Homo sapiens: one gene and its partners. The protein of the gene in region 2 interacts with the protein of the main gene of each other region in a biochemical or structural test. Each region holds a gene or a part of one and is shown on either strand. Other genes may lie near its edges.

Evidence for each region. The genes of interacting proteins can lie anywhere in the genome.
Region 1: the proteins of SCGN (region 2) and ARFGAP2 form a complex in vitro, tested with the Homo sapiens proteins (one study listed by BioGRID).
Region 3: the proteins of SCGN (region 2) and TUBB3 form a complex in vitro, tested with the Homo sapiens proteins (one study listed by BioGRID).

What each region holds. Positions count from the first base shown.
Region 1 is NC_000011.10:47,173,880-47,181,309, reverse strand, and holds the start of ARFGAP2 (ADP-ribosylation factor GTPase-activating protein 2), read left to right. Parts: upstream 1-4,430; 5' UTR 4,431-4,456; coding exon 4,457-4,528; intron 4,529-4,675; coding exon 4,676-4,794; intron 4,795-5,386; coding exon 5,387-5,459; intron 5,460-5,996; coding exon 5,997-6,128; intron 6,129-6,211; coding exon 6,212-6,295; intron 6,296-7,394; coding exon of another isoform or gene 7,395-7,430. Other genes in the region: PACSIN3 (protein kinase C and casein kinase substrate in neurons protein 3), read left to right, coding at 620-855, 969-1,124, 1,724-1,899, 2,031-2,151, 2,280-2,416, 2,823-2,944, 3,264-3,379.
Region 2 is NC_000006.12:25,647,654-25,655,234, forward strand, and holds the start of SCGN (secretagogin), read left to right. Parts: upstream 1-4,561; 5' UTR 4,562-4,750; coding exon 4,751-4,832; intron 4,833-5,728; coding exon 5,729-5,799; intron 5,800-7,581.
Region 3 is NC_000016.10:89,926,342-89,933,341, reverse strand, and holds part of TUBB3 (tubulin beta-3 chain), read right to left. Parts: intron 772-7,000; coding exon 663-771; intron 1-662. UniProt on the Homo sapiens protein: Tubulin is the major constituent of microtubules, protein filaments consisting of alpha- and beta-tubulin heterodimers. Microtubules grow by the addition of GTP-tubulin dimers to the microtubule end, where a stabilizing cap forms.

The DNA of each region.
Region 1 (7,430 bases), on a different chromosome or scaffold from region 2:
AACAGAGATGGGTTTGAATCTCAGCTCCTCTTTTTTTTCTTTTTTTTTGAGATAGAGTCTCGCTCTGTCACCTAGGCTGGAGTACAGCGGCGTGATCTCAGCTCACTGCAGTCTCCCCCTCTCGGGTTCAAGTGATTTTCCTGTCTCAGCCTCCCAAGTAGCTGGGACTACAGGCGCCCGCCACCATGCCCGGCTAATTTTTTGTAGTTTTAGTAGAGACAGGGTTTCACCGTGTTAGCCAGGATGGTCTCGATCTCCTGACCTTGTGATCCACCCGCCTTGGCCTCCCAAAGTGCTGGGATTACAGGAGTGAGCCACTGTGCCCGGCCCTCAGCTCCTGTTGTAGCCATAATGCTTTGGGCGAGTTCACATCTCTGGTCCTCAGTGTTTTGCCTGTTCAATGTTGGCAATGTCGCTGTCCTCACGATGGTGGCTGAGACAAGGAGTCAGTGAGATAAGGCACATGGTCCTCATTCAATAAGCCCAGCTGACAGGGTTGTCATTCACCTTTGCACCCCATGCGCGTACCCCATGCCTCCATGCCTCACACCCAGTGAGAGGGGCTAGGCTCATTTTGGGTGGTACCCAGGCCTGGCCTAAGCCCTGTCCCTCCCTGCAGGCCCCCAGTATGGCACACTGGAGAAGGCCTGGCATGCCTTTTTCACGGCGGCTGAGCGGCTGAGCGCGCTGCACCTGGAGGTGCGGGAGAAGCTGCAAGGGCAGGACAGTGAGCGGGTGCGCGCCTGGCAGCGGGGGGCTTTCCACCGGCCTGTGCTGGGCGGCTTCCGCGAGAGCCGGGCGGCCGAGGACGGCTTCCGCAAGGCCCAGAAGCCCTGGCTGAAGAGGCTGAAGGAGGTGAGGCTGGGTGGGGGAGGTATCCGAGACAGGCTCCTTCCTGTTTGTTTGCAAGGGATCGAGGGGGCCAAGGTGTGGCATCCAGGGTCCAGAGTGGTCTCCATGCATGCCAGGTTGAGGCTTCCAAGAAAAGCTACCACGCAGCCCGGAAGGATGAGAAGACCGCCCAGACGAGGGAGAGCCACGCAAAGGCAGACAGCGCCGTCTCCCAGGAGCAGCTGCGCAAACTGCAGGAACGGGTGGAACGCTGTGCCAAGGAGGCCGAGAAGGTACAGGCCACAGGTCCCAGCCCTGGCCCCCGCCCAGGGCACGGCTTCCTGAATGAATCTTGCTCCCTGAACATCTTGTCCAGTCCCCAGCACCCTTATTACCCTATTCCTCACCTGCCACCCTCTCTCCAGATGATCATTTAAAGGAGGAACCTGACAAAAGGTGATGCTTTACTAGGGAAAGAAATGGAGTTTCAGGCACTGGGATGACTTCAGCAGTTGAGAACTTCCAGCTCTTTTCCTTGCACAGTACCCTTTGCCCGAAGTGTCCTTTCCTGCAGCTCTGGATATGCAAATCCTCCCCATCCTGAGATGCTGCAGTTTCCACCTCCTCCAGGAAGCCTTTTCTGATTTCTCCCATCCTTTCCTGTAGGTTGACCTCATTTCAATCCTCACCAGACTCTTTTATATGCTGTGCCTGATGTCACCTCCCTTGTTAGGCTGCTGGGGTCCTTGAGGGCAGGAGCTGGGTCTTGGGACTGATTGCCCCTAGTGGCTAGCCCTGGGTCTAGCAGCCTATGGCAGTGTCTGGTAAACACTGGTGGAGTCCTGGGTGGAAGAAGGTCTGGTTCTCACCAGGCCCCTCCTCTCCCACCCAGACAAAAGCTCAGTATGAGCAGACGCTGGCAGAGCTGCATCGCTACACTCCACGCTACATGGAGGACATGGAACAGGCCTTTGAGACCTGCCAGGCCGCCGAGCGCCAGCGGCTTCTTTTCTTCAAGGATATGCTGCTCACCTTACACCAGCACCTGGACCTTTCCAGCAGTGAGAAGTATGAACTGCCTGGTGGGCATGGAGATCTGGGGTAGTACTGGGTCTCCTCCATCTCCCCGAGGCCCTGGCTGGGACTGAGGGATGCAGGGTCTAGACTTCCTAGACTGAGGGGTGTGCCTTGGGTCATAGGTTCCATGAACTCCACCGTGACTTGCACCAGGGCATTGAGGCAGCCAGTGACGAAGAGGATCTGCGCTGGTGGCGCAGCACCCACGGGCCAGGCATGGCCATGAACTGGCCACAGTTCGAGGCATGTGTTCCAGGCGGGGTGGGGATGGGAGGTGGGATGGGCTCCCACTCAGCTCGGCCAGGGCTAGGGATGAAGTAAGTGAAGGTGGTTCAGATGGCCCCACCTGACTATAAGCACTGTCCCCACAGGAGTGGTCCTTGGACACACAGAGGACAATCAGCCGGAAAGAGAAGGGTGGCCGGAGCCCTGATGAGGTTACCCTGACCAGCATTGTGCCTACAAGAGATGGCACCGCACCCCCACCCCAGTCCCCGGGGTCCCCAGGGTGAGAGCCAGGAGCGCGGCTGTGGCAAAGAAACAGCTCTGCCTCCCGCCCTCCTTTCCTTTCTCCTTGGTTTCATTTCTTTCACACCTGAAATGGGTTGAAAATTGGTGCCAGGGACCTGAGGGCCTACTTAGTAGTTGTAATGATACTGGTTCTCATAGTGGTTTAGATTTGCTGGGCATTTCCCACATTCCCTCTCGTTTATGCCTTAAATCAGCTGCGTGTGGCAGGAATTGCCTCTTTGCTCACAGTCGGGCATGGCGAGGTAGAGCTAGAATCTTTAGTACCTCACCTGACTCTCCCAGGTGCCTCTGGGGGTAGGGAGGCCTTTGCCCTGATCCTGGGTGAGATCTCCAGCCCCGTGTTCCTTGCACTCTGAGCTGCTCCCTTTGCCTCCCCTCTCCAGCACGGGGCAGGATGAGGAGTGGTCAGATGAAGAGAGTCCCCGGAAGGCTGCCACCGGGGTTCGGGTGAGGGCACTCTATGACTACGCTGGCCAGGAAGCTGATGAGCTGAGCTTCCGAGCAGGTACCCTGGGACCCCTTTCCTAGCTTCAGCCTCTGCCTTATCTGCCTGAGCAGGGGTGTCAGAAAGGGAAGCCAAATACCCACTTCTTAAGGGCCAGTCCTCTGTCCCTTCAGCTGTTCCAGGTCCAGATAGCTGGTGCCTGGTGGCTGCATTCAGGGTCTGGGGTGGGGCAGCTTGCTGACCTTGACCTGCCTCTGCCTGAGCCATGTCTTTGCTAGCTGGGCTCTGGGACCACACCATCCCCCTCAGTCCTTGACCCAGTTGCAGGAACAGGGCCTGGGCCAGGGCCACTGGCAGTGACCAATCCCCTTTCCCCCAGGGGAGGAGCTGCTGAAGATGAGTGAGGAGGACGAGCAGGGCTGGTGCCAAGGCCAGTTGCAGAGTGGCCGCATTGGCCTGTACCCTGCCAACTACGTGGAGTGTGTGGGCGCCTGAGTGTCCTGACAGCCCTTCTGCAACGTTTACCCACCCTGGTTCAGAGCCCAGCTTCTCCTGGAGAGCCGGACCCTCAGGGCCCTGAACCGTCGCTCTCTGGCTGCTCCTCTGTCCCTTGAGGGAGGAAGTCCTGGGACCCAGGGAGGGGAGGGGCCTTTGTCTAGGGAAGGGACTGGTAGGGAAGGGACGAGTCTAGGCTGAGGGCAAGATGGGAGGTCAGAGGTGACAGAAGCGTTCAGGGGTGCCTGGGCCTCCCCAGGAGCTGTGGACTCAGTTCCTGACCTCTGCTTTGGGGTTCCTGGGGTGGGCTTGGGGTGAGTGTAGTTCTGGCCTAGCAGCACCCTCTTGTGGCTTGTTCTAGCGTGTATTAAAACTTGACACACACCCACACACAAAAACAAAAACACCACTGTCGGGCTCATGTGCATTTTTTTGATAGGACACCCTTGCCAGGCCACCAGAGGGCATCTAGAGAGAGGCCTAGCGTCTGTTATGGGGCCGGGGTTGGAAAAGGGTTTGCCTGCTTGGTACCTGCTCTGGAACTTCGAGATACTAATCTGGAGTGGAGGGGACTCGCTGTCAGGCTTGCTGTTAACCGAGAACGGCTGAAGGCTGGGCGAGACGCGGGCCAATGCGTCTGCCCGTTCGGGCCGGAGGGACGAGGAGTGTTTGGGCAGCCTAATCCTTATTCATCGATCTGTAATTAGCTGGAGTGGGGGTCCCCGCCCCCAGCCTCCCGCAGCCTGCGCGGCGTGGGGGCGACTCCACCTGGGGGTTGCGGCGTGGGAGGGGCGGGGGGAAGGGTACTACGCGCGCGAGGAGGTTTGGGCCGGTCCGCGCGCCGTCGCCCCGCCCCGGCTGCGGATTGGCCCGGCGCGGCGTTGATTCTTGCGGCCGCGGTTGTCGTCGCCGCCCCCGTCCCGCCGGCTGCCCATTGGTCCAGATCGGACTCCAATCACCCCACCCCTCGGCTGGCCCAGGCACCGCTGAGGCCGGCCTGGTGAGCCCGCCCTCCCCGCCGTGGATTGGCCCGCGGCGGGACCCGTCAGCCGCGGTTGTGTCTGGGAAGGAGAGAAAATGGCGGCGGAGCCGAACAAGACCGAAATCCAGACTCTTTTTAAGAGGCTTCGCGCAGTTCCAACCAACAAGGTGCGTGAGCAGGGGGCGCGCGGAGTCTCTCGTCCCGCTGGGGCCTGAGGGAGGGAGAAGGGCGGAGGTGGGTTATGTTTCTGGGGTGTCGGTGCCTGGCCTTTACTCGGGGCCCCTGACGATTCGCTCATCGCCGCCTCCACCCAGGCCTGTTTCGACTGCGGCGCCAAGAATCCGAGTTGGGCCAGCATCACGTACGGTGTTTTCTTGTGCATTGACTGTTCCGGGGTGCACCGCTCCCTGGGCGTCCATCTGAGCTTCATCAGGTAGGCTCTCCGCGCGGTTGCCGTGTTTCCACCCGGCCGGCCAGGGGTGTCTGGGCAACAAGGGAGAGTGGCTGCCTCGACTTGGGCCGCTCTGAATTCGGTGGGAAGCCTCTGGGCCGAGAGGGTCCGGTAGCCTCCTGCCAGAGGGAACCACCTGTGTGGGCCCTTTGGCACATGGGCGGTCCGTCTCCGCCTCTGGGCCAAAACTTCCTCTTTTTTGACGGTCAGGCTTGAGACTCTGAGCGTTAGTTGAGGGGAAAGGGAGGCATTGACCTTGTTGTTGCTGATATGTTGTTAGACCAGTATGTCTCTAGTGAGACTGTGACCATCCATTAGGGGAAAGCCAAATCCAGGCGTGCGTGCCTGAGAATGTGACCTCCTTTCGGATCTGGGGACATAATTAGTACTCTTTGGAGTAAATGAACGAAGAGGAGAGTTTTCATGGACAGGGTAGTGTGGAGGAAATGGGGTGATGGCTGATTAATGTTTCCTGGGTGCCTACAGCAGCCTGAGGCCAAGTGACAGGTATCCGGGTTGCCAGGGAAATCCTGCTGGTATCTGCTAGTGGGTGAGACGCAGCCCTTGTACACAGGTCCACAGAGTTGGATTCCAACTGGAACTGGTTCCAGCTGAGGTGTATGCAGGTCGGCGGGAATGCCAATGCGGTAAAGCTCCTTCTACTTCCCTCACCTTCCATTCTTCTGCCTGGTTACTAACTTTGCACGACTCCCTAAGAGGCCCTGTCGTTTTCCCTGTTCAGAGGGTTCTCTGTTCTATAACACCACCATAAGCTATTTTCTGAAAACTTCGAAACTGGTCACAGCTTCTCTTAAATGGGTTTCAGATTCCAATTAAACTGGGCAGGTGTTCTTGGGGAAAAGCCACAGGAGTTGGGAGCCTTCACAGTCATTGGGTCTTGTGGGCCTGCCCTGGATGAAGGATGGGGAGGCTGGGTATGGGATGTTGTGCTCAGGCAGCGTTCAGTGGGGCCTGGACTTCAGTCATATCAGAGGATGGCCCGCTGCAAGGTGTTTTTTGCAGGAATTTCGAGAAACTTTATCTCTGAAAAACCGGTGTCAGTAGCGTGTATCATCCTGTATAGATAATAACTTCGCTGTCATAAGGAGATGTCTCCTACAGCCAACACGTTTCCTTCTTGAGAATCACCCGTAGCACGCGCTGCTCTCTTCTTTGCTCTCCAGACGGCTTTTTTTCGCCAACATGGATGCACAGCCAATGATGCCAACACCAAATATAATAGCCGAGCTGCCCAGATGTACCGGGAGAAGATCCGGCAGCTGGGGAGTGCGGCCCTGGCTAGGCATGGCACTGATGTAAGTGCCTGTTCTTGGGGCTGGGGCAGGAGGGTTAGGAGTATTCAGAGCCCTGTGTTTTAGGGGTGTCTTCTCCTTTCTAGCTTTGGATAGACAACATGAGTAGTGCCGTTCCTAATCACTCCCCAGAGAAGAAGGACTCTGATTTCTTCACAGAACACACTCAAGTGAGTGCCCACAAGGAACCGTTTTCCCAGTTGTTCTTGACAGGCAATTTACCAAGGCCCAGGCCTTCTGTGATCATGGTTGTAGATTCCATTTGCTTTGATGTGATGTCTTGGACACCACGTATGAAGTCCACTGTTCCTGCTGGGTAGGCCTAGGTGTTTCCTCCTCCATAAATGGAGGTGCAGTGTAGCCCTCCTTAGAAATCGACTCCTATAAATTGGGCTGGCGGGGAAGAGAGGCAGCTTCTTGAAGTTTCAAGAGGTGTCCGGTGCCCCAAACAAATTTTCCTGGATTCTTCCCCTATAAGAAAGGCACTGTGGGCCGGGCGCAGTGGCTCACGCCTGTAATCCCAGCACTTTGGGAGGCCGAGGCGGGTGGATCATGAGGTCAGGAGATCGAGACCATCCTGGCTAACAAGGTGAAACCCCGTCTCTACTAAAAATACAAAAAATTAGCCGGGCGCGGTGGCGGGCGCCTGTAGTCCCAGCTACTTGGGAGGCTGAGGCAGGAGAATGGCGTGAACCCGGGAAGCGGAGCTTGCAGTGAGCCGAGATTGCGCCACTGCAGTCCGCAGTCCGGCCTGGGCGACAGAGCGAGACTCCGTCTCAAAAAAAAAAAAAAAAAAAAAAAAAAAAAAAAAAAAAAAGGCACTGTGCTTGGGGACAGTGAAAGGATTCTCTCCTCCCCGCCCCACCCCTTTGAGGAGGGTTTCCTCTTTACTGGCCCTGGGTGCTGAAGTTAGACTCTTGGCTTCAATTCCTGTTCTCTACTCCGCATTCCTGTGATGGTGGCCAAGTCACTCAACCTGTCAAAACCTCAGTTTCTAAAATGGCGATGTAGCTCCTTCATAGGGGTTGTAGTGATAATTAAATATATTCATATATGAGGAGCCTTTAGATCTGTGCCTGCCTAGGTGGTGGTAGTTAACTGTCTTTAAGTTAGGAGAATGGGCTCTGGCTCTAAGTAAATAGTGAAGGGGTTGGGGTGGGGGCTGCTTGTCTTCCTGCTTTCTTCCACAGTGAATAGCAACTGTGATCTTGTTTGCTACCCTCCAGTCCCTTTCCTCATGGGTTTGGAGTATGATTTCTTGTCCACAAGGTGCTTGTAGGTCTTGGTGCTTCTTGCCAGCAGGAG
Region 2 (7,581 bases):
AGTAAGTACTATGTATCAGACTTGGTGCTGAGATAAAACTTCTATATAATTTAGGAATGTAGACCCAGAAGGGGAAAAATAGGAAGAAAATAAATTTTAAAAGCTACACTATGCATTTGTATTATTAAGTTTGTAAGAAGATGGCTGTATAAGTGGCTGGAAAAATATTTACAGTTTCAACTTACTTTAACAGACCTAGAGCTTTTAAAGCACTGGTTTTGTGCTTTAGTACAGGTTACAAAAATCTTCTTTCATAATTTAGTGATATCAACTCCTTAAGAAAAGATGGTATCATTGGGGTAATATAGAATACTAAATAGTCACTGTTTGCAAGACACAGTGCCAGATGCTATGTTCTGTGGGGTAGGAAGGGGAGAGAGGACAAGAAATTTTGAAGAGCCACTTGAGTGTGATAGGCTTTTAACTTTAACACTTAGCCCACCTCTTAAAAAATCCCAAATTACCCCAAACAACCACCTATAAAATCACTATTAACTACTACTTTAAACTATTCAAAGATTTTTATTTTTATTGTTAGTAATGGTGTAAAAAGGTATCTCTTCCACTGCTAATAGCAGTATAAATCAGTAAAATTCAGCTGGAGACCACTTTTAACCTTATGTTATAAAGACTTACGATGTTATACATTGTTTAGCCCAGCACTTGTGCATTTAGAACTTTATCCCGAAGAAATAATTACTAGAGTGTGCAAACATTTAGCTGTAACAGCAGAGGTTTATGATAGTGAAAACCTAGGGACAATTGAAAAGTCTAAAAAGAGGATATTAAATAAATTATGATAATACTGACATTAAAATAATATCATAGAAGAATATTTAATGACATGCTTCATAATATTAAGTGAAATGAGCAAGTTACAGAGCAGTATAATCTACTTTTTCTGCATATAAAAAATTACTGTAAGGACATAAACCCATATGTTATTATTGCTAGTTATCTCTAGATGTCAAAATTATGGAAGAAAGTTTTCTTTCTTGTTTTGTAGTTTTTCTAATCTATATTGTTTAAATTATCTGTACTATTCATGTGATTGCAAAGGAAACAGTAAAATGTATATATTTTAAAAATAACTCTATTTCTAGTGTTTTCTTATTATCTTATGAAAACCACTGTCCAATTTCTTTTGTTCTGCTTGCATGGCCCTTTGGAACTGGTGTGGCTTTAAACCAAGGCTGTCTCTTTGAATTCTAAGGTCTACTATACAGTCTGTGAGATGTCTACAGAGCTTGAATGTTCAACAACATATGAAGATGAGTATTGTTTATATTTCCAGTTAGAAATATCATTCTGAGTTTGTAAAAAGATGCAGATATTTTAGCTTAAAATTGAATGGATGCATCAGAGTTAATTAGCAATGCTTCAAATTACAGACCACTGCCTCTTCTTGTGCAACTAACCATCAATTAGCTATGCTAATGAGAAAAGCAGGAAATGATTGCAGGAGAAAATGAAATCAGTAGGGAAAAAAGAAAAACAACTGATTTTAGTCTCTAGTTTCAGCCATCAATTGTCAAAACTTACCAGGATTACATATAAGTATAAATTCTAACCTCTCTTTGAAAGAGGCAGTGTATTAATAAGAAAGTAATGTTAATTCTTTAGAAGTTTTTTCTTTTCTCGATTATCCTTCAGAGATGCCATACCTAAATAATAAAATGACCAGAATATGAGCAGCAGGAAACTTATAGACAAAAGGTTCGTCAGTGGTTCTAGTGTAATCCCTAGGGGAACACTTAAAAAAATATCAGCATAGAGGTCTTTCTCCAAACCATTTAAATCAGAATCTCTGTGGAAGGTGCTAATTAATCCATAAGATGCAAAATGTATTTCAACTTGATTCCAGCTGCTGAATATTTGCTTTACTCTGAGTTCTCTTTTTGGACAGGAAGGGACTCTGATAAACCACCTCTGGTTCTTTCATCCCCACCTCCATCACTCCATTTTTAGGCAGGAGAACTTTCCCAATGAGACAGTCTTACAGGTGTCTCCTGTAGGATCTTTAAATACCTTCCTACTGGCTCTCTTCTCTGTTAAGGGCTTGGATGATTTTCTCAAAGAGAAACTTTTATGAGGGAATGCAGGATTCCTAAGCAGTATCTCCCTACCCAGTGCCATGATAAATATTTGGATGCAAAGAAAACAGGAAATAAGTCATTGAATGGAGATTGCAGCTCCCCAGAGAGCTCCAGATGACAGGCTCCTGGAAAGTGTTCCAAGTTCTGTTTGTTCTCCAGTCCTGAGAACAGTAATCTTTGCGGCTGTACTTTTCCTCTTCTTTCCCTAGATTTCACTTTTACAACTTTAAAAAAGTATAATAGCTTGCATTATATGCTTACTGCACAAAGTTTTAAGACAAAAGAATTACAAATAGCAAAATTGAAATCATCTGTGAGCCTCCCTCTTCCCCACTCCAGAGAAACATATCATTAATGTCATTAATGTATATCTTCCATGTTTTCTATGTGTAGAAACATGTATTTTATTTTACAGAATTGAGTCATCATATATGTACACTTTTGTAACTTGCTTTTTAATCTTAACCTTATGTTTTGAGTTTTCTGGATCATCAAGCTTCAAAATCAAGATTTCTGTGTATGCAGCAAAGCCCATCATAGATATTTACTATCATTTATTTAACCATCCCTCCACATTAGATCTTGATTATTACTTCTGAAATCTGCCTTGTTTTATCTTTTTCCACTATTTATCAGAAAACAAGATCAGCCCTGGTGGGTTCATACCAATTACTTTTCCTAACTGGTGCTTGACATTGTATCCACTAATTTCCTAAAGTCACAGATGATAATTACAGATACTGAACCCTTACACCCTCCTATGCTACATATGCTTTTCTCCAATTTTTGTAACCAGCACTTGCTTAATCGGTGATAATACTGCTTTTCTTCCTTTAGGCTAAGCCACACTCCTCAAAAATCCTGAAGTTTACTTCACCGTCTTCCAAATATGTATGTATGTATGGAAGATTCATCATTTTAGTAGCTAACTTACACTGAATGTTACTGTATATACTGTGACAATAGGTTTATATGATTTTTTAATTTGACCTTTATGATAATAACACGGGGTAAATACTACTATTATTCCCATTTTACAAAGAAAGTGAGGCTTCTTTTGAGTAACTTGCCCAATATCACACACAACTAGTAAGAGGCAAAGCTGGGCCCTGAACCCAGAACTGTTTTCTTCTGAACCATTTTTTTCATTATTATTAACTAAAGTCCGTGTTTATTAAAATTTTCTTAATTTTTACCTAATGGCCTTTTTCTGTTCCGGCATCACACCCAGGATAAAACATTACATTTCTTTGTCATTTTTCATTAGGTTCCTCTTGGCTATGACAATCTCTTAGACTTTACTTGTTTTCTCTAACAGAGTCATCCCTCATCAGCTACAACACCATAGCAGATATAATTCATTGTGCATTACTATGTATGGTTCTGATCCTCACAGCAACCCTCCAAAACAGATGTTTTAATCCTCATTTTATAGATAAGAAAATTGAGGCTTAGGGAGATGAGAACTAATGGTGCAGTTCACAAAGCTGGTAAATAATGGAACTCAGATCCTGACCCAGGACTATCTGACCTTGAGTGTCATGTTCTTTTCACTACTCTGGTTTAGATGACTTATACATGCATGCTTTTTATAAATAAATCTGAATGCTAAAACCAGAGTCAGGGTGCCATAAAGAAAAGTTACATCTGGTTCAACTTTCTTATCTAATATCCAAGCACTTTCTATAGATTATCCAACGAAAATTTCTAAATATATAGTCAAAAGGTATCAGTGTAGTTTGTACACGTTTCCACAAAGCCTTGCCCAATTTTGAACAGTCCTGATTGTTAGAAAGCTCTGTGTTCCTCCAACTGATTTTTATCCTTTGGTCTTAATGTGGCTCTTAGGAGCCAAACACAATCATCTAAGCCTTCTACCTAAGTACCCTGCAGGCAGACACATCTCCCCCAGACTCTCTTTTCCTGGCAGAGTACGGCTTAGTTTATATTTTCCTCAGCATCCTAATGATGCTACTTTAAATCACAGTGACTTGCAGTATCCCTGTTTAGTTGCAAGTCCTTATAGTGCATTTTGGTACAGCAATGTGTATGTCCTATACAATCAGGACTCAATAATTGCTGTTGACTTCTTCCTTAAAGGGAACCACTTACCACCATCACCATCCCTTCTCGCCTCCCCTCTCCACACACTACATTTCTAAATCCTCAAGTCCAAAGGACCCTAACACTGACACTTCTTGCAACCCTTTAAATGAGGCAGCTCTCCCTAGAAAACCCCTTGAGACACAAGTTTGGAAAGTGAGTCAAACGTAAGAGGGATGTCTTCTCCGAGTCTGAGAAGCAAGTTAAAGGGCAAAAGCAGTGAGCCGTGGACGCCTGGAGACAGTTTCTTTCTTCCTGAATTCCCCAAAGCGCAGAGACAGACAGGATCTGCCAGGACAGCGCGCAGGGCGGGGCGGGGACAGGCGCGCCAGGAGCGGGGCGGGCTTCCAGCCGCTGGTTTTGCTGAGGGCTGAGGGACGGCTCAGCGACGCCACGGCCAGCAGCGCTCGCGTCCTCCCCAGCAACAGTTACTCAAAGCTAATCAGATAGCGAAAGAAGCAGGAGAGCAAGTCAAGAAATACGGTGAAGGAGTCCTTCCCAAAGTTGTCTAGGTCCTTCCGCGCCGGTGCCTGGTCTTCGTCGTCAACACCATGGACAGCTCCCGGGAACCGACTCTGGGGCGCTTGGACGCCGCTGGCTTCTGGCAGGTCTGGCAGCGCTTTGATGCGGATGGTGAGTAGAACAAGCCACTTGCACACTCAGGTGTAGACGTGGCTCCAAGCTCAGCCCGCTGAAAGGACCTGGAGTTTCCCCTTTACTGTAGGAAAAGTTATCGACCTGGGTTGTTAATGCAGTGTACCTAATACAGTATCATTAACAGACGTTTGGCATACTGGTGATACACATCTATATACCTTGTTAAAATTCTGGGTGGTGAATTTCCACTTTCCCCTTTCCAATCTCTCTTTGTGTGCGAGCGCGCCATATATATGGTAGACATACATATATATTGTATATACAATGACTAATATCATTGTATATGTTCAAGGCTTGTGGGCTGAGACTCAGCTATTTGAAGTCATCCTTCCCTAAATGGGCTCACTTTTACGCAGTGACTTTGCTGTACACCCCTCACTCTCTCAAAATGAGAATAAATTTTATCAGCTTTCAAAACGACTCCTCCACCAAAAAACTACTTGAAAATAAAATGGAACTACTTAATATTTGTTTTTATTAATAAAGAAATAAAATATCTAAAAGGTGTGTTTTAACTCTGCAAACTGGGATTCAATACTTACACCTGTTAAGTTTCTCCAAGCTTCAGAAATTTTGGGGTTAAATTTTATTGGAAAGTTCACGTTTATTCATTGATTAAAATTCATGTACTTAATAGCCTTCCTTTTCCAAGCACTAATATAAACCCTAGCATAAAGCACGTATTCTGGAACAGTGTTTACTGTTCAAACCCATGTATTCTAGAGGTAGGTGTTGGCACTTTGTTATTGGAATAACAAAAAATAGTGTTGAGGGAAGCTTTATGAATTGTGAGATTAAAAACATATTTAGATAAATACTGTCATGTGTTTTTTATATGTTAGTATTATTTATGTTTATTTTCTCACATTTAGAAAAAGGTTACATAGAAGAGAAGGAACTCGATGCTTTCTTTCTCCACATGTTGATGAAACTGGGTACTGATGTAAGTACTTGCACACTAAGCCTTAATTTATGCCTCTTAGTAAGATACGCACATCCAAGTCTTATATTGATTGGTACCTATTAATTCCAACTCACCTCCTTTCTTCCTTGCATGTATGTAATTTCTCCCCCTCTCCTAGCAACATAGAGGGATTTAGGCAGTTTTTATAAAAGGTGCAACTGTAGCATTAGACATGCTGGTTACTGACTTTCAGTGTAACATCTGTCATCCACTCAGAGATCCTAACTGTAGACTCAGTTAACTTGGTCTTGAACGTCTCCTTGGTTATGTCTCTGCTAATTGATTTATACCTGGGGGTAAAGTAGCCCACTTTGTTCAAAAAGCTGGAAAAGATGTTAAGCACATTAAGATTTTGGGTGTTTAATATGTATGATACTCCTCTGATAGCAAACCACAAACCATTTAAAATCATTTATCCATTATTCATTTTATTAGAAGAGGTTACAGATTTTTCAGGGAATGACAAACCAGAAAACAACCAGCATACTCAGAGCCCAGATACAAATGGAAGCCAATCTATCTAGTGTCCATCTGATGGTAAATATGTCCTTGGGAGATGTAAATGAACTCTTGAAAGTCTCTCTATCAAAGCAGAGAAAAATTTTACACAGAAACACATGAGCGGAGGACAGCCTGGGGATGGGCTCGATCTGATGAAAGCTCCAGTAGGGCATTCATAGTAGAAGGAGACGCTCTAGGGACAATTGAATTTAAATGAATGATGGAGATAGTTTGTCCTTATCATTCAGCTGTTTATCTGAAGAATAGAAGTGCATCACATTCTCATGTGAGAGCTCAGTGAGGGAACAAGGAGCTCTTCACCACTGTTGAGAACATGGGGAGGGTATGTGGGGGGCAGGGGAAGCTGGTTCAGAAACAAAAGGGCTGGCTTCCGCCTTCTTCAGCCACACAGATCTCTTGGTCCCCCTCTACTTCTGTCTGCCTCTCATATTCTGTCTGTCTCTCTTTTTTATGTCTATCTCTGTCATTTTTCTGCTCACTTCTGTTTCTTATCTCTGTGTTTCATGGCTCTCATCTCCTACTGTTTCTTGCCTTTCTCTCTGACCTCTCTGTTGCCCATCTTTCTTGTCTCTGTTTCTCATTTGTTTCTCCATCTCTCTGTCTCTGTGTTTTCCCATTCTTTTTCCAGTCTCTCTGCTTCTCAAAGCTCTTTTGGTCTTTCCTCTCCCCATGTCTTTTATTTCTCCTTTCTTCTTTCTTTCCCATCTCTCTTTTTGACCTTCATTTCTTTTCTCCACATTTTCTCCTTCACCCTTTTCTTTGTCTCTTATCTCCCTTTTTCTGTACCTTTTATTGCTCTTTGTCTGCCTGCACTCCACCCCTTACCCTGTGCAGCCTGTGAAGTGAAAGGATCAGCAGACGAGAAGGATAGAGACACAAGTCCCTTCTTTCCTCTGGTCAGACCACTTGCGCACACTCCTCTTTATCCTTCATTCTTGTACCTACACAAGCTACAGGTAGAGCTGAGGAAGCCTCCCCCAAGTGAGGCTTCTGCTTCAATCTAGCCAGCCACTTTCACGTGCTAGCAGCCCATGGTGAAGCCCACCAGCCTTGCCCACAGGGCTTCTACTTATATCTGTAAATGTAAGGTTCATCGTGTTCCAGAAACCCATCTTATCTATCATGGACATGGGTATTTGAGGAAAGCAAAAAGACAAAGTTAAAACCATTCAAAATCTTGGAATAAATGGGATGGCCAGCTCCTAAAAATCTGTCCTCAGGGACCTGGAACTTCTCACC
Region 3 (7,000 bases), on a different chromosome or scaffold from region 2:
AGAGTCCTGGACCAAAGGCAAGCTTCAGCAACTTTCTTCACCCTTAAGCCTCACTGTGTTTAAGGACGGAGCAGGACAGGACGGAGCAGGACAGGCAGGATTCAGTCAGACGTCCACCAGATGCAGGGGCTCGTGTCTGCACTCCCAACACTTTGGGAGGCCAAGGCAGGTGGATCGCTTGAGTCCAGGAGTTCGAGACCAGCCTGGGCAACATATCGAGACTGTCTCTATTAAATTAAATAAAATTTTAAATCACATGTCCATGTGGGCAGGTGGGTGTATCACCACTTTGATATGGAAATCACTTCACACCAGTTGCTAAAGAGCCCCTGACTAAGCCCTCCAGGTGACCCCTTCTCTAGGCCCTCTTATGGCCTCCAAAGTCTCTGGCCTGCCCCATCCCTGTCTGTGCCCCTGGACACGCACAGGCCCTCATGGCACTAATATGTTTGGCTCTCACTTTTGTGACTGTGATTTATTGTCTGTTCTGTGCGTCTGGATGCCTGACATCCAGTTACGCCTGCTGGCATCTCAGCCAACCTAACCCATGGGAGGACAGAGATGCTGAGAGCTGGTGAGTCCAGGTGCTGAGACCTGGTCAGTCAGACGCTGAGACCTGGTCAGTCCAGGGCTGGGATAGGGAGGCTGGGGCAGGCACTCACAAGAGGCCTCGTTGTAGTAGACGCTGATCCGCTCCAGCTGCAAGTCCGAGTCGCCCACGTAGTTGCCGCTGGGGTCGATGCCATGCTCATCACTGATGACTTCCCAGAACTGCAAACAAAGTGGGAGAGGGGGGGTCGGCACCGGCCCATAGCCCCAGCCAGGCCCTTTCCCTTGTGAAGCCTTTTAGCCCTCACTACAAAATTAGGGCTTTTGACCCACGGCCTCCACGAGCCCCATTCAGAAGAGAGCCCCACACTCTGTTACCTGTCAGAAAATTGCCATAATAAATATGCACCTCCACACCTACACGTCCAGGCCGACCACAGCCCCAGGGTGGGCCAAGGTTCAACAGACCCACACCCAGGTCCCCAGGCCCAGCTGTGCAGCTGCTGGCAAGGGCCTGGAGCAGCGGATTCCTCCATGAAGGGCATTGGTAATAAACACCTTGAGGGTTAGTTTTTACTATCCCCTCTTTTCAGGAAAGGGAACTGAGACACAGAGCGGGTAGAGACACCCACAGTAGCTGGCAGAGCAGGGTTCAGAGGCCCAGAGCTCAGGATCGCTTTTGGCTGCTACACCTGCCCCTCCATGGGAGAGCAAACCATGTCCAGTGATGGTGCCAGGACATTACTGGCCTCAGCTGACGGGACTCACAGGGACTCTGAGAGCCAGTCTCATCGGGGACCCCCAGCTGGGTCTGCAGAAGGGTCCTTGGGGTCCCAAATGGGAAGCGACTTGCCTGAGGTCACCCAGCCTGTCCGTGTGAGGCTGGCATCGTCTCAGCTCCCAGGGGTCGTCCTCTCTCTACCTGCCACCTCCACCTCTCTCCCCCTAGAGCAGGTGCCTGCAGTGCTTCTCGGACTCTGCTCCCATGACAGCTGCCGAGCGGAGCCTAGACTCAGGGGCTGGGCCTGCTGGGTTCACAGACGCTTCCCTCACCCTTCCCAGCTGTGTGACCTTGCACAGGTCACTAGGATTCCGTGTCTCAGTGTCCTCATCTGTACAATGGGCACGATGACAGGAGGTCTTTTTGAAATGAAAGTGGGTTAATCTGTGTGAGGCATATAAATGGTATATGGCAAACGTAGAACTATCTATCTGTGTGCACACGGAGAACCACACCCCTGGGTGAGAGCAAGCCCTTCAGGGAAGTTGCCACCTCATCGTGGGACACGCTCTGATGGCCGAGGCCGCTGCGTCTGGGAGCAGTGTCTGCAGGCAGCAGGCCTCCTGGGACACACGCTGGGAGGCTTCCCAGGGCTGCCTGACCTCTCCCAATGCCCCTTGCCCTTACTCCTCAGGAGTGACTTTTAGATGAGCTGACGGGTATGAAGGCCTCAAGAAACAAGGGGCTCTACATGTGAGTCATGTGCTGCAGAAGATTCCTCAAGAAAAAAGCAGGTTAGAAAACAATTTGGTGGGGCCGGGCACAGTGGCTCATGACTGTAATCCCAGCACTTTGGGAGGCTGACGTGGGAGGACCCCAGGAGTGTAGACAAAGATGCGCTTTGGAATGGAGACACAGGAGATGTGTTTTAAGATGCCTCTAGTAGGCCAGGTACAGTGGCTCATGCCTGTAATCCCAACACTTTGGGAGGCCGAGGCGGGTGGATCACGAAGTCAGGAGATCGAGACCATCCTGGCTAACATGGTGAAACCCCGTCTCTACTAAAGATACAAAAAATTAGCCGGGAATGGTGGCGGGTGCCTGTAGTCCCAGCTACTCGGGAGGCTGAAGCAGGAGAATCACTTGAACCCAGGAGGTGGAGCTTGCAGTGAGCTGAGATCATGCCATTGCACTCCAGCCTGGGCGACAGAGTGAGACACCATCTCAAAAAAAAAAAAAAGATGCCTCTCGTAAAGGGGTGACTTTAGTGGAAACTGCTGTGCAGGAGGCAGGACTGGGTGGTAGCAAGCATGAGAAGCATGAGTCTAGGAATTCATATCAAGACCCCATCTCAAAATAAATAAATAAATAGAGGCCAGGTGCGGTGGCTCACGCCTGTAATACCAACAATTTGGGAGGCTGAGGTGGGCAGATCACCGGAAGTCAGGAGTTCGAGACCAGCCTGTCTCTACTAAAAATACAAAAATTAGCCAGGGGTGGTGGCTCACACGTTCCAGCTACTCCGGAAGCTGAGGCAGAAGAATTGCTTGAACCCAGGAGACGGAGGTTGCAGTAAGCCAAGATTGCACCACTGTACTCCAGCGTGGGCGACAGAGTGAGACTCTGTCTCATAGAATAATAATAAATAAATAGAAACAAAACCACTCATAGCTGGGCACGGTGGCTCACCCCCATAATCCCTGCACTTTGGGAGGCAGAGGCGGGTGGGTCACGAGGTCAGGAGTTCGAGACCAGCCTGGCCAACATAGTGAAACTCCATCTCTCCCAAAAATACAAAAATTAGCCAGGCATGGTGGCGCGCACCTGTACTCCCAGCTACTCGAGAGGCTGAGGCAGGAGAATTGCTTGAACCCAGGAGGCAGAGGTTGTGGTGAGTCGAGATCGCGCCACTGCACTCCAGCCTGGGCAATAGTGCGAGACTGTCAGAAAGAAAGGAAGGAAGGAAGGAAGGAAGGAATGAAGGAAGAAAGAAAGGAAAGAGAGAGAGAGAGGAAGGAAGGAAGGAAGGAAGGAAGGAAGGAAGGAAGGAAGGAAGGGGAGAAAACTGCTTGTGCCAGGCACGGTGGCTCACGCCTGTAATCCCAGTACTTTGGGAGGCTGAGGCAGTGGATCATCTGAGGTCAGGAGTTCAAGACCAGCCTGGCCAACATGGCAAAACCCTGTCTCTACTAAAAATACAAAAATTAGCCAGGCGTGGTGGCGAGCACCTGTAATCCCAGCTGCTTGGGAGGCTGAGGCGGAGAATCACACGAACTCGGGAGGTGGAGGTTGCAGTGAGCTTATGTCATGCCACTGCACTCAAGCCTGGGCAACAGAAGGAAACACCGTCTCAAATAAAAGAAAGAAAGAAAACTGCTTGTGGGTGCTTCTCTATGCGTGGGTGCCTCTGGTAGATGTGTGGAAGGCTGTGCCTGGGGAGGGGCCCCAGACTGGGAGGAGCTTCTTCTCACGGGTGCCCTGTGGTCTTGTTGAGATTTTCTCACGTGCACACGGTAGCTTTTCAAAGAAAATTTGTTAAAAATAAATGTTTTTAAAACCTTAAGAATAAACATAGTGTAATTATTGTAACGCGGACAGCATGGACATGGACCACCTCTGCTAACAGTGTCTCGGGATGCCCGTTCACCCTGAGACTGTTATCAGAGGTGCCCGTTCACCCTGAGACTGTTATCAGAGGTCATCTCTCCACAAAGGTCAGGGGTGGATTTCTTTCCATCTTTTGTGCATTTTTGTTATTGCTAAGTTTTATTCTTTTTGCGTTAAATTTTTAAATTACAAAAATGATTCAGGCTGGGTGTGGTGGCTCATGCCTATAATCCCAGCACTTTGGGAGGCTGAGGCAGGCAGATCACTTGAAGTCAGGAGTTCAGGACCAACCTGGACAACAGGGCAAAACCCTGTCCCTACTAAAAATACAAAAATTAGCCGGGCGTGGTAGCGCGCACCTGTAATTTCAGTTGTTTCAGAGTCTGAGACACGAGAATCGCTTGAACCCAGGGGGCAGAGGTTGCAGTGAGCTGAGATCAAGCCACTGCACACCAGCCTGTGGGACAAGAGTGAAACCCTATCTTAAAAAAAAAAAAAAAAAAGGCCGGGCGCGGTGGCTCACGCCTGCAATCCCAGCACTTTGGGAGGCCAAGGCGGGTGGATCACGAGGTCAGTAGTTCGAGACCAGCCTGACCAACATGGTGAAACCCCATCTCTACTAAAAATACAAAAATTAGGCCAGACGCAGTGGCTCACGCCTGTCTGTGGTCCTAGCACTTTGGGAGGCCGAGGTGGGCGGATCATGAGGTCAGGAGATCGAGACCATCCTGGCTGGCACAGTGAAACCCTGTCTCTACTAAAAATACAAAAAATTAGCCAGGCGCGGTGGCGGGCACCTGTAGTCCCAGCTACTTGGGAGGCTGACTCAGGAGAATGGCGTGAACCTGGGAGGCGGAGCTTGCAGTGAACCGAGATTGTGCCACCGTGCTCCAGCCTGGGCAACAGATAGAGACTCCGCCTCAAAAAAAAAAAAAAAAAATTAGCCAGTGTGGTGACGGGTGCCTGTAATCCCAGCTACTCAGGAGGCTAAGGCAGGAGAATTGCTTGAACCCAGGAGGTGGAGGTTGCAGTGAGCCGAGATCACTCCACTGCACTCCAGCCTGAGTGACAGAGTGAGACTCCATCTCAAACAAACAAACAAAAAAATCAGCTGGCCATGGTGGCTCATATTTATAATCCCAGCAGTTTGGGAGGCCAAGAGAGGTGGATCACTTGAGTCCAGGAGTTCAAGACCAGCCTGGGCAACATGGTGAAACCCTGTCTCTACCAAAAAACAAAAAAATTAGTTGGGCATGGTGACGCATGCCTATAGCCCCAGCTACTCAGGAGGCTGAGGTGGGAGGATCACTTGAGCCAGGGGGGTGGAGGTTGCAGTGAGCCTAGATCATGCCAGTCCAGGCGACAGAGTAAGAGCCTGTCTCAAAAAAAAAATACAGAAAGGTCCCTGAGGCATTTGGGGCTTGTCCAAGCTTCCCACCTACTGCTTGCCTCCCTAACACTCTCTTTGAGGATCCCCCATTAATTTAGTTGCTGGCAGTCCACTTGAGTCGGGGACCTTGCTCCCCAAAGCACTGGGACACCCCAAATTTATGGTTCCAGGGAACCCACAACCACCAGCCCCTGTAAAGGAGGGGTGGAGAGAGTAACACATCTATGGGAAGTCCTCTGCAGAGCGAGGCACAGGGCAGCAGGAGCAATGGAGCAGAGTGGATTCAAGACCCAGCACGAGCACAGCTGTGGGCCAGGCGCGTGCCTCGCAGGACCTGTTTTCTCATCTGTGAGATGAACGTGTGAATGGTGCCCACATCCAGGCCTTAGCACAAAGCTTGACATGAAAACATTCAGCACATGTTGGCTTCATTTTGTTCAAATGTTTTAGATACTATTTAAAGTTTTAAAACCATATGCACAGGTCACTTAAAAAAAATGGACCAGAAGGATAGAAAAAGAAATTTGTTCCCACTTGGATAGAGAGAGGTGGCTAGATGGGCACCAGGTTTATCTGCAATATTTAAGGTTTTTTTTAACCAGGAGAATATATTAATTGCTTTTGTAGTTAAAATTAATAAAATTATAATTTGAGATAAAGTAATAAAATATATTGTTCCTTTTTTTTTTTTAGATAGGGTCTTGCTCTATTGCCCAGGCTAGAATGCAGGGGCATGACCTCAGCTCACTTTAACCTCTGCCCACCTCCCCCAGGTGATCCTCCCACCTCTGTCTCCCAAGTAGCTGGGACCACAGGCCGGCGTGCCTCCATGTCCAGCTAATTTTTTTTGTTTTTTATTTTTTGTAGGCACGGAGTCTTGCCATGTTGCCCAGGCTGGCCCTGAAGTGCTGACCTCAGGTGATCCACCCACCTCGGCCTCCCAAAGTGCTGGGATTACAGGTGTGAGCCACCGCACCTGGCCTATGTTACATATTTAATAAACAATAAAATATAATTTTATAAACTAAATTGTTAACATCACTACAGAAAAGGAAATCGGCCCGGCGTGGTGGCTCATGCCTGCAATCCCAGCACTTTGGGAGGCTGAGGCAGGTGAATCACCTGAGGTCAGGAGTTTGAGACCAGCCTGACCAAGATGGAGAAACCCCATCTCTAGTAAAAGTACAAAATAAGCCAGGTGTGGTGGCGGGCGCCTGTAATCCCAGCTACTCAGGAGGCTGAGGCAGGAGAATAGCTTGAACCCAGGAAGTGGAGGTTGCAATGAGCCGAGATCGCGCCACTGCACTCCAGCCTGGGCAACAAGAGCCAAACTCCATCTAAAAGAAAATAAGAAAAAAGGAAAATTGTGGCCAGGCGTGGTGGTGAGCGCCTGCGGTCCCAGCTACTCGGGAGGCCGAGGCTGCAGTGAGCCGAGATCGCGCCTCTGGACGCCAGCCCGGGCGACAGAGCCAGGCCTCCTCTCATAACCAAAAACAAAAACCTGGAAACACAAAGCAGAACCCGGCGTTCGAGGCCAGGCGCTCGGCCCGGGCGCTGTCCTTGGTGCTGACCTCGCGCAGCGCTTGGGGTCCTGGGGAAAGCGGGGCCGGGCTTTGAGGGCAGTGGCCAAGGCAGGTGGGAGCGGGGGTCCCCGATGAAGGGGCTGCGAGACTGGGGCCTCCAAGCCCCTCCAGGACCCGAATGCGGTTCCCGCCCGGCCCGCGGCTCCGCAG